Linked DNA regions of Homo sapiens. The protein of the gene in region 2 purifies or fractionates together with the protein of the main gene of each other region. This does not show direct contact. Each region holds a gene or a part of one and is shown on either strand. Other genes may lie near its edges.

Evidence for each region.
Region 1: the proteins of CHST3 (region 2) and FCN1 purify together in Homo sapiens (co-immunoprecipitation; one large-scale study listed by IntAct). This does not show direct contact.
Region 3: the proteins of CHST3 (region 2) and OFD1 purify together in Homo sapiens (affinity purification with mass spectrometry; one large-scale study listed by BioGRID and IntAct). This does not show direct contact.
Region 4: the proteins of CHST3 (region 2) and C1QTNF9 purify together in Homo sapiens (co-immunoprecipitation; one large-scale study listed by IntAct). This does not show direct contact.

What each region holds. Positions count from the first base shown.
Region 1 is NC_000009.12:134,902,695-134,905,344, reverse strand, and holds the end of FCN1 (ficolin-1 precursor), read left to right. Parts: 3' UTR 1-2,113; downstream 2,114-2,650.
Region 2 is NC_000010.11:72,011,718-72,014,108, reverse strand, and holds the end of CHST3 (carbohydrate sulfotransferase 3), read right to left. Parts: 3' UTR 551-2,391; downstream 1-550. UniProt on the Homo sapiens protein: Sulfotransferase that utilizes 3'-phospho-5'-adenylyl sulfate (PAPS) as sulfonate donor to catalyze the transfer of sulfate to position 6 of the N-acetylgalactosamine (GalNAc) residue of chondroitin.
Region 3 is NC_000023.11:13,755,205-13,758,763, forward strand, and holds part of OFD1 (centriole and centriolar satellite protein OFD1), read left to right. Parts: coding exon 1-38; intron 39-1,373; coding exon 1,374-1,563; intron 1,564-2,455; coding exon 2,456-2,586; intron 2,587-3,132; coding exon 3,133-3,244; intron 3,245-3,559. UniProt on the Homo sapiens protein: Component of the centrioles controlling mother and daughter centrioles length. Recruits to the centriole IFT88 and centriole distal appendage-specific proteins including CEP164. Involved in the biogenesis of the cilium, a centriole-associated function.
Region 4 is NC_000013.11:24,319,568-24,323,078, forward strand, and holds the end of C1QTNF9 (complement C1q and tumor necrosis factor-related protein 9A precursor), read left to right. Parts: intron 1-1,428; coding exon 1,429-2,201; 3' UTR 2,202-2,964; downstream 2,965-3,511. UniProt on the Homo sapiens protein: Probable adipokine. Activates AMPK, AKT, and p44/42 MAPK signaling pathways.

The DNA.
Region 1 (2,650 bases), on a different chromosome or scaffold from region 2:
CAGTGCTCTTCTTCCTGGCCATGGGACCTCTCAAGTAGGAGTGTAGGCGTGGGCCCATCCAGCAACATTTGGGCATTCGTGGACATCCACATAGTGTTGTTTCTGTTCTTTTCCTCTCCTTCCTCATCTTCTCTCGTCTTTGTTGAATATTTTTATTATCCCGTCACCTCCTCTATCAGCTTATAACTTGTTCATTCTTTTCCTATCTTTTGGTGTTTATGCTTGCGATTGCAATATATAGCCTTGATTTTTTACGGTATACTATAAATTATTCCTTCTACCACTTTACCAATGAAGACTTTGAAACACCTCTAACTACATTCACTCCCTTCTGCTTTTTATGCCATTCTTGCCGCCATGCTATGATACATTTATTTAAAGTCCTGCAAGAAATGGCTATTAGTATTGTTTTGTGCAGTCCGTATTCATTTTTACCACATTTTTACACTTTATGTTGCCCTTTATTCCTTCTTCTATTTTATTATTATTATTATTTTTGGTGTGAGATCATCTTCTTGCTGCCTGACAAACTCCCTTTCATATATATTTTTTATTTTTATTTTTTGAAACAGGGTCTCACTCTGTCCCCCAGGCTGGAGTGCAGCGGTATGACCTTAGCTCACTGCAACCTCCACCTCCTGGGCTCAAACAATTCTCCTGCCTCAGCTTCCCGTGTAGCTGGGACTACAGGTGTGCACCACTACGCTGGGCTAATTTTTGTATTTTTTGGTAGAGATGGGGTTTCGCCATGTTAGCCAGGCTGCTCTTGAACTCCTGACCTCAAGTGATCCACCCGCCTCAGCCTCCCAAAGTGCTAGGATTACAGATGTGAGACACCGTGCCCAGCCTCATATATTTTTTGATGAAAGTCTGCTGAGGATGAATTCTGTCCACTTTTATTATCTGAAAACATCTTTATTTTGCCTCATTTTAAATAGTATTTAGATTGGGTGTAGACTTCTATATTGCCAATTAGTTTCTTTTAGCACTGTAAATACAGATGTCCAGTATTTTCAGATTCAGTTATTTCAGCTGAAAAGCTAGCTGAAAGTCTTGTTGCTCCTCTGAAGGTAATATGACTTTTTTCAAAAAATACATTTATAAAATTTTTTTTCTTTGCCTTGATAGTTTTACTACAAGGTGCCTGGATGAGACTTTCTCTGAATTTGTCTTGCTTGGGGTTCATAGAATCTGTGACTTGATGTCTTTCATGAGTTTTGAAAAATGCTAGCCATTATCTCTTAAATATTGCTATTACTCTACTCCCTCTTCTCTTTCAGATATTTCAGTTACACCAATGGCCAATGTTTGCTCGTGTCTCATATGTCTCTTGTTCTAGTTTCTGGATTTGTATTCTTTTTTCCTTTTCACATTCAGTCTGGATATTTTCTGCTGACCTATATTCCAGTTCACTAATAATGCTTTTCACTGTATCTAATTTGCTTATAAATAGAAAACCATTGATTGAGTTATTAATTTCAGTTATAGAATAGCCAGTGTAGACTCCAATGCTTGGCTCCACTTCTCCACTTTTTCACCTATTTTTTTCACCATCTTCCATTTTCTTCAACACACCAGTCAGAGTCGTTTTTAAAGACATTTTAAACACCTCAGTGGCCTGTAGATCTTATCTTCTGTTTTTTGTTTCTTTTTAATCTTAGTTTTTTGGCACACTTGGAGGGTTTTGATTGAATGCTAGACATAGTATTCAGGAAGGCAGAGAGGATTTTTTTTTAAGTCAGATTTTTTGAGGTATAATTTAATACAGTAAAATTCACCTATTTTAGTTCAGTTCTAAGAGTTTCCTCTGTGACTTTTCCTTTGGCCCATGGTTTATTTAAAATTGTGTTCTTTTACTTCCAAATTATTTGGGATTTTTCTAGATATCTTTCTGTTCTTGATTTCTGGCTTACCTCTATCAGGGTCAGAGAACAAACTTAATATGATTTCAATTATTTTAAATTTGCCAATGTTTATTTTATGGCCCAGAATATGGTCTATGTTGGTGAAAGTTCAATTTGAACTTGAAAAGAATATGTTTTATGCTGTTGTCTACTGAAAAGTCTATATATAAAAAATAGATTAATAAACTGATTAATAGCCTGGTTCACCACTTTCGTAGCCTTACTGATTTTCTGTTTAGTCATTCTGTTGATTACTAACAGATTCTCTAACAGAGAAGTATAAGCTTTCTAACTATAATGGTGGGTTAATCTGTTTCTCGTTTCAGTTCTAGCAGATGTTTCCTCAATTTTTGACGTTGCATTTTTAGGTGAATGCACTTCTGGAATTGTATTGTGTCCTTGCTGAATTGTCCCTTTTATCAACATGTAATAGCACCCTTTATTCTTGATAATAGTCTTTGTTCTGAATTTTACTTTGTCTGTTATTCCTATAGCCTTTCCAATTTTCTTTCGCTTGGATTTTACGTGATAAGTTTTTTCCCCCATTTTACTTTTAGCAACTCTATATTTTTTAGTTGAGGTTGGGTTTCTTGTAAACAGCATATAATTTGGGTTTTTTAATCCAATCTGAAAATTAATGTCCTTAATTTTGTGTTTATACCATTTACACATAATGTACTCATATATAAGGTTTAACTGAAACCTACTATCTTGCTAGTTGTGCTCTACTTGAATTTTTTTTTAGT
Region 2 (2,391 bases):
AGTTGAAGGCCAAATAAATCTGAAATGCTATCTGAACACGTGAAGCAGATCAAAACGCACAGTGACTCTTGTTGAGAGGGTGCCGCCTGCCCTTTCAGCTGACTTTTGAATCCCTAATGGGGCTTTTTGGGAACAATGTTTGTGAACAACTGATTACACCTTCATTCTAAAAGGAAACTGGTGTCCAAGTAAGGGAAGTGACTTATGCAAGGTCACACAGCCAGACAGTGGCAAAGCTGGGACTCATCCCCAGGCCCCCTGACCGCTGGCCCAACACTCCTGTCTCTGCCCCCAAATACCTGGGTTTTCTCTCTCTCCGCTCAGCGCAGTCCCCATCAGCTCTGCCAGCCTGGTGACGCAAGGTACATTCATCCTGCCCCATATTCCCCTAGTGCCTTTGGTCCCTTGGGAATGGGCAGGGGGATTCTCTGTCCTGCTTCATGCTGGAAGTCACCTCCTTTCTACCACTGTTAATTAAAAAAAAAAAAAAATTATGACCCAATTGCTGCTGAGAACAAATGCAAAGGAAAAGGCAGAGACACGCTGCAGGTTTTGCTCATTGCATGATTTCATCTTTAATTAAATAAGTCAAGTAGGCCATCAGGAGTTGGGTTCACATTCTATTCTGCAAAGCAGGCCCTGACTGCTGGGGCTGCCAGCTCTCTGAAGGGCAGCCCCAGCGTTTCCAGGAGACGGCAGATTGTCTGTGGCCATGGCAAGGACATCTGGGACGACAGTGACAGCAATGGGGCTGGGAGCAATGTGGAACGGCGCCAGAGGCTGAGCAGAATGAGCTACATGCTACACATACACACACGTGGATGCATATGTACATACCATGGCAGTGTATGCCGTGAAGGGGTGTCTCGTACCATGCAGACATGAAATAGCAAACAGGGCTGAGGTGTTGGCAAAAAGACAGTGTGCAGGACCTGGGAGGGAGCAGGGGAGCCAGGAAAATTTGGACTAGAATATACAGCTGAGATGGAGACTTCAGGGGGTGCCCAGTTCAAGCCAATGGCAGAAGACGCAGACCACATGGGTCATTGTATCCCCCCAGCAAAGCACCTGATCCATGACATGAGCTAGGCCTGTGAGGATGGCGCCATGTCTGTAGCCTTGGAAACACGTAACAAATTTGTCCCCAGTCCAGTTACGGGGTGCCAAAGGACACGAGACCAAAGGATCTTGGAGCTCTTGAGACAAGTGAAGTTGCCAATTCTGCTTTGTGCTTTTGAGGTAAAGAGCAGCTTCCACTGTCTCTGAAACTGCAGCGAGTTGACAGGTGATGCGGCTGCATTTAGGAAGCCCTGGACCCTCTCCCTTCCATCTGGCTGCGCCTTGTCCTAGAAGCTTCACAAGCAAACCCACCAACTCAGGAGCCCTGGATTTCAGCAGATGGTCCTTCTATCAGCTTGTACAGATCAATAAGACACACTTGGCTTGTGCAGGCATCTGCTTCCACTCAGCCCCAATTTCTCTCCCCTTAGCTCTCCTTGCCTCAGGTATCAGCCCTTGAGATCTGGCTTCACTTTCTGACTTTGGGAATGGGGATGGGAGGGGACTGCCTTGAGGACACAGCCATCCAGTCTTCTGCTCCTGTCTTAGCAAGGGACAAGCCCTACAGTCAATTGGTCTCACCATGTTGCCCAGGCTGGTCTCCAACTCTTGGGCTCAAGCAATCCTCCCACCTTGGCCTCCCCAACTGCTGGGATTACAGGTATGAGCCACCGCACCTGGCCTCTACGGTCAATAGGCCCTAGTATAGGAGAGGATGACCCGGGGCTGGAAGACTTTAGGGTCAGGATATCTCCTCTACCACCCAGGCCAAGAATCAACCTTCTGGGAAGGACCTCCTGCTGAAGCTCCTTCCATTGCCAGACAGACAGATGGCAGAGATGGGAGGGAAAGATGTCGTGTGATGCCTGGTGCCCTCTGTTCTGTGGGGTTTGGTCAGCAGCTGCCCCACTACGCCAGCCTCTGGCAGTAGCTCCCAGGCTGAGGGTGCTAGCAGACCGGAAGTAAACTTGTTATTAAACATCTCTTTTCTGTTTATTTTCAAGTGCATGTATTGCAGAAGGACAAAAGCCTAAATTTGCTTTATGTTCCTCAGCTTTTGGAAAATAACTCGGTGACCACCTGCGGTGTATGTGACAGAGACTGGCTTCTATGCACATCTGGTCTTCTCTTTCCCTCTCTATGGGGACCTGAGAATCCTGCCCTCCACTAACTACTCCCAAGGACCCTCCAGGGCCCTCATCCATTCCTCAATTTATAAACAGGTCCCGAGGGGAAGATGGGAACAGGCAGAGTGGGGACAGCCTGTGAGCATTGGACGCTGCTGTGTCTCACCAAGGCCTGGAACGTTCTGAGCCATTTCTATATGCTGGG
Region 3 (3,559 bases), on a different chromosome or scaffold from region 2:
AACTCAATCAATCTGTAAATCGTGTGAAAGAACTTGAGGTAATTGTTAAGCATGTTGGTTTTTGAAATAGATTTTAAGCAATATATGAAATTTTAGTCATACATAATTTATCCTAAGTCATCCTGTTGAGATGTTTGGACTGCCATTTATATGGCTAAGAAGGTGTTAGCTGAAGTTAATTCAATAGTTCTTAATTTCAGTCAGTGTCACATAGGAAAGTGTAGATAGAGCTTTGGGTCCTGGAGTCCTGCCCACATCCTGTCTGTGTCTCTAACTGCTTGTGTGTCGCTAGGTAAGTTCTGTGACTGCAGGTTCCTGAGCTGTAAACTAGGATGTTTTCCACATTATAGGGTTGTTGAGGGAATTCAGTAAGCTAACTTATGTGCCTAGTTCATAGCAGGTGGCCATTACTATTAGTTTCTACATCAGCCTGTTATCTCCTTCCATCAGCAGCAGGTAAACAAAATTCCTGTCATTACATTGTTATCTTACAGATTAAAACAAAATGAGGTACATTTTTCACATATCATTGCTTCTTTACTTTTCTGTTCATTCGTGTGCTTGCTGTCTGAAGGATGAAGCTGGAACTTTAGGTACTTACAACATATTTTGTATATGAAATTTATTTTAGCAACTGTGACTTATGTGAGAACTTTGTAGGCTTTTTACTCAAATATGAGATATACTAAGAAAAGGGAAGCACTTCACAACATTTTACAGAATCTTTTTTCCTTTCTTTCCCTTTTTTTTTTTTTTTTTTTTTTGAGACAGAGTCTTGTTCTTTCGCCCAGGCTGGAGTGCAGTGGTGTGATCTTGGCTCACTGCAACCAACCTCCACCTCCCGGGTTCAAGTGATTCTCATGTCTCAGCTCCCAAGTAGCTGGGATTTCAGCCATGTGCCACCACACCCAGCTAATTGTTGTATTTTTAGTAGAGATGGGGTTTCACCATGTTGCCCAGGGTGGTCTCGAACTCCTGAGCTCAAGCAATCCTCTTGCCTCAGCCTCCCAAAGTGCTGCGATTACGGGCGTGAGCCACCATGCTCAGCCATTTTTATCTTACCTTTCATATTTAAAAAATATATATTGCTATGATGTGTGATTATTGTTGGGTTCTTGGTTGCCTCTGGAAAATGGGATGATAATCTTAGAAGGACTTGCTTCATGGGATGCGGCCTATAAAAGTTCTGCCCCAACTGTAGGGCGGAAGATAATTTTCGTTATTGTAGTTAGAGTCTTATTGTAGAGAATCAGACTTCTGTCTAGTGACCTTAATTAAATTGTGACACCATGCTTAAAGGAGCCTGCCAGCTTTTACTTTTGCAGTACTGTAAAGTCATTATTCAAATGTAAATTTTCCTTTTTGAATTTTAGCTTGAATTAGAGTCTGTCAAAGCCCAGTCTTTGGCAATAACAAAACAAAACCATATGCTGAATGAAAAGGTTAAAGAGATGAGTGATTATTCACTACTAAAAGAAGAGAAACTGGAGCTTCTGGCACAAAATAAATTACTTAAACAACAACTGGAAGAGAGTAGAAATGAAAACCTGCGTCTCCTAAACCGTATGTATTTTTCTTTTCTTCTGACTTGCGTGTTTTAGTAATTCGCATTAGGTCAGTATTATAAAACTATGCTTTGTACTTGTATAAGGTAGGGGGCTTACATTGGGAAGATTTATAAAATTAAGATTCTTGGATTAAACTCTGCAAACCTGCCTATAGGTGGTATCAAAGCTTCCCTTGCCCTCTGACTGCTGATTGGGTTTGGCCAGTGGGGACACCAGCCTCTACATACAGTGGCCCTAGGCTGGCCACTGTGCCTCATGGCCAAGTGAGGCCATAGTGCCTGCGATTACCTCTTCCAAGTGCTCTGCACCACCACCCTGTCTCTAGTGCTGAGAATTTCTCCCTCCTCTGATTCCCCAGGCCCAAGGAGCGCTAACAGTATGGCCCTGTTACTAGCCCACCCAGGGAACTCCACCATCCTTTGTGCATACCCTGAATAAGTCAACCTTTATTAAAGGGTTCTTAGATGACCTTGACCGTGAGAGCCATCTGCCTTCTGCCTGGATCCCAACTGCTGCTGTCAGATGCCCAGATCATATTGGATCCCAGGGCTGTCATCAACAGGTAGACCAGATAGAGAGCTCCTTCTGTGCACAGTAGAGGAGAGAAACAGGCTTTCAGGTTAATTTGAGAATTTGAAAGAGTTCTTTTACTTGGAGTAGGACTCCAAGGGTAATAAAGTTTGCATTAACATGCACTAAATTCTTTTGTTGTGAAATTTGAGAGTCAGGATTGCTCTGAGCTCATTTAATAGAATTATTATCATATTTATTGAGTCAGTACAAAGCAAAGAACACTTTAAAACCCCTTTAACTGTTTTTGTTAAGTTAAATAAGAAAACTTAAGGTTGGTAATGACTAGGATTTTTTTTTTTTTTTTACCTTCTTAGGCCTAGCTCAGCCGGCTCCTGAACTTGCAGTCTTTCAGAAAGAACTACGGAAAGCCGAAAAGGCTATAGTGGTTGAGCATGAGGAGTTCGAAAGCTGCAGGCAAGCTCTGCACAAACAACTGCAAGACGAAGTGAGTATTGCTCTTCTTCAGTTCTAGTGTGATACCAGTACACTTCATAGTTACGTAAACTTGGCACAAGTCACACTAGTGTAAATCAGATTTATTTTAACATCAAACATTACTCCCCCAAATATGCTAAAGGTATCCTTTCTCATCTGAGAAAATTCTGCAGTGATAACGTGACTTTATATTCGTAATAGTAATAAAATGGAGAAGAAAGCAAACTCACCTAAACATAAAATTTTCTGAGTGCCTGATGGTGCCCACTGTTATCTCTCGATTCTCACCCTGATAAGTATTACAAACATTCACTGTCTTCTGATTTCTGCCTGCATGCCCTAGAGTTCTTTGATATGACTGAAAAAGATGGTGAAGAACTTGTTTGTGTGTTCTGCTTGTGTTTTTTTTTAATAGGGACCCTGTTGTTTACTGTCATAAAGCTTCTTGGAATTGGCAGAACAAAAAGAGTACAAACATGATAAGAGAACTTTTCCTTTTGAAGCAAGCTGTGATTTGTTTTACATTGATTTCTTTTCCTATTCTGAATCTTTTCAGATTGAGCATTCTGCACAGCTGAAGGCCCAGATTCTAGGTTACAAAGCTTCTGTAAAGAGTTTAACTACTCAGGTTGCCGATTTAAAATTGCAACTGAAGCAAACTCAGACAGGTTAGAGACGTTTTAACCCATAAATATTTTTGTATGTATAAAGCTTCTGGTGTCTGTGAAAATGTAATGATCATAATTTATTGAATATTAATTATTGTTTTAGGGGAAAAGCCATAGAAATATGTGTCATCTTAGAAGTAAAACTCCCTATCCATTTTGGTAATACCATCTGGATCATCAGCAAAAGTATTTTGCTTCATAGGTGCCTCATGGCTTGGGAGAGTCTCATGCCCCAATAGGAAAGGCGTGGTGGTAACATAGAAGTCCCCATATTCATTATAGGATTTCCTTTTTTATTTGTTACCCCAATGTTAA
Region 4 (3,511 bases), on a different chromosome or scaffold from region 2:
CAAAACCCAGAAAAACAAAAAAACATGTAAACCATATTTGTTTAGCTTGCGGGAGGGAGGCTGAATTTGGCCTGTGGCTGTAGTTTGTTGAACCTTGAACCTTGCAGTGGATGAGCACTGAGGAGTGAGACTGAGTTTTTGACTTGGTGCATCTGGCAGCACTGCATGGAGGAGGTGGAACTAGAACTGGTCCCTGATGGGTCGGGATGTAGTCGTAGTGGCAAACTTGTGTAATCTTCACTTTGTGCTTTTCATGTACTGACTCACTGAATGCAATATCCCCAGACGCTAGGTAGTTTTATTACCCTAGTTCCATATGTGAGGGAACAGAGGCACGAGGCTCACTAGCTCATCTGACGTCCTGTGTGCATATGGGGACAGAATGGAAACCTGGCATTTAACCTCAGAGTCCACACTTGCAACCACGGCTCTTTGGTATGGGTGGGGGTGCAAGGAAGCAGCAAGGTTTCTGTAGATGATGAATTGCCGGTGGGATAGGTGGGTTGGGGCTGGGGTTGGGCAGGAGAGGGCAATGCCTCGATGCAGGCTTTATTTTATGTTCACTCCAGGGAGGAGGTTTTTAGAGGATGTCACGACTAGGGTTGAGTGTCAGTTAATCTACCTGTCTCTGCTCTGAAGAGTGCTTTCTGTCATGGATTGACATTATTTAATGGCCAGCATGGTAGACTTAGATGGTAGGGTTGTAATTTCTAACGTGAGCCCTGACACTAATTTAGTAGACGGTAGTCAAAAGGTGTGTTGGGATGTGTGTGTGTCCATGTGCACACACGTGTGTAATTGGAGTAATTGATTTTCATTTATTTTTATTTTTTTTGAGACAGAATCTCACTCTGTTGCCCAGGCTGCAGTGCAGTGGTTTGATCACGGATCACTGCAGCCTCAGCCTCCTGGGCTCAAGCCATCCTCCCACCTCAGCCTCCTGAGTATCTGGAACTACAGTTGTGCACCACCGCGCCTGGCTAATTTTTGTATTTTTTGCAGAGATAAGGTTTGGCCATGTTGCCTAGGCTGATCTTGAATTCCTGGACTCAAGTAGTCTGCCCACCTTGGCCTCCCAAAGTGCTAGGATTACAGGCATGAGCCACTGAGCTGGGCTGGAGTAATTGAATTTTATTTTCTTATTTTTCTTTTTCTTTTTTTTTTTTAGAGTCAGGGTATTGCTATGTTGGCCAGGTTGGTCTTGAACTCTTGGCCTCAGGCAGTCCTCCTGCCGCGGTCTCCCAAGGTGCTAGGATTACAGGTGTGAGCCACTGCACCCAGATGGAGTAATTGAATTTTAAACTCTGGGCATATACTGAACCTGTGCACTACTTTGTTTCATTTGTGAGCTCAATTATAGAAAAACCAAAGTTGTTCACAAGGGAATCTTTCACAAGCTATCTCTTTATTTGCTCTTTCTCTATTTAGGAGCAGATGGAAAAGTTGAAGCAAAAGGCATCAAAGGTGATCAAGGCTCAAGAGGATCCCCAGGAAAACATGGCCCCAAGGGGCTTGCAGGGCCCATGGGAGAGAAGGGCCTCCGAGGAGAGACTGGGCCTCAGGGGCAGAAGGGGAATAAGGGTGACGTGGGTCCCACTGGTCCTGAGGGGCCAAGGGGCAACATTGGGCCTTTGGGCCCAACTGGTTTACCGGGCCCCATGGGCCCTATTGGAAAGCCTGGTCCCAAAGGAGAAGCTGGACCCACGGGGCCCCAGGGTGAGCCAGGAGTCCGGGGAATAAGAGGCTGGAAAGGAGATCGAGGAGAGAAAGGGAAAATCGGTGAGACTCTAGTCTTGCCAAAAAGTGCTTTCACTGTGGGGCTCACGGTGCTGAGCAAGTTTCCTTCTTCAGATATGCCCATTAAATTTGATAAGATCCTGTATAACGAATTCAACCATTATGATACAGCAGCGGGGAAATTCACGTGCCACATTGCTGGGGTCTATTACTTCACCTACCACATCACTGTTTTCTCCAGAAATGTTCAGGTGTCTTTGGTCAAAAATGGAGTAAAAATACTGCACACCAAAGATGCTTACATGAGCTCTGAGGACCAGGCCTCTGGCGGCATTGTCCTGCAGCTGAAGCTCGGGGATGAGGTGTGGCTGCAGGTGACAGGAGGAGAGAGGTTCAATGGCTTGTTTGCTGATGAGGACGATGACACAACTTTCACAGGGTTCCTTCTGTTCAGCAGCCCGTGACAGAGGAGAGTTTAAAAATCCGCCACACCATCCATCAGAATCAGCTTGGGATGAACTTATTCAGATGGTTTTACTTTATTAATTCCTCCAATTATTACAATAATCATAAAAAGGTGAAAATGGAAAAGTTATTCCCAAAACTGATTCTGTGTAACTTACTATTTTTCCAGGAGTAAATATTTAAAATAGCTGCATGGTTTATTCTAATTTATTTCACATTTCTTATTCCTATTATCTGAAGAATCCCTCGTCTGTGCGTTTCTTGTGGGAAGAGTGTTTTAATATCATTTTAGTGCTCTGAGGAGTCATATGAAGATGTATCCCTCATCTGTGTTTCTGAGGACATTAAGGGGAAATTAGAGGGAAATGTTTATTCAATTTAGTACTAGCAACAGCTTTAAGCTGGTGATGCTGTCATACTCCAGAAAGCTGTAGACACTGCTCATTTTGTCTTTTAAAAAAATTTTATTTTATTTTAAGTTCTGGGATACATATGCAAAACATGCATGTTTGTTACATAGGTAAACATGTGCTGTGGTGGTTTGCTGTATCTATCAACCCATCACCTAGGTATTAAGCCCTGCATGCATTAGCTATTTGTCCTGGTGCTCTCCCTCCCACTTTGCTCATTTTCTAACCTAGGTTTTAATCACCATTTTACCCAACAAATCATTGTTCGATCATTATTTGCCAGACTTGAATCTCTATGTGTTTTCTAGGACTGCTCTAATAAAGTACACAAACTGGGAGTCTTTAAACAACAGAAATGGACTTTCTCACAGTTCTGTAGGCTGGAAGTTTGAGATCACCGTAGCAGCAGGGCCATTCTCCCTCCAAAGGGGATACAGGAGGATGCAGCCTTGCTGCTTCCAGCTTCTGGCAGCTGGTGGCAGCATCACTCCAGTCCCCGCCTCCATCTTCAGGTGGCTGTCCTCCTTCTGTATCAGCCAAATTTTCCTCTTCTTACAAGGACAGCTTCCCTAATCTACTATGACCCATCTTAATCATATCTGCAGCTCCTTATTTTCAAATAAGGTCACATGTACAGGTTAGGACTTCAGCATCTCTTTTGGGAGACACAGTTCAACACAAAACAATCTGCCCTCTGATTCCCAAAGTTGATTTCCTTCACCTGTGCAAAATACATTTTCGCCCCATCTCAACATTTCCAAAAGTCTTAACACTTTCCGCGTCGAGCTTTCCTGAGCCCCTCTGGTGCAGCCACCTGCCTGTCCCATACACCCCGCCCACCATGGAGTCCAGAGGGAAATGAGCCAGCAGCCCCAAACCAGACACCAAGGCGCCCAAAG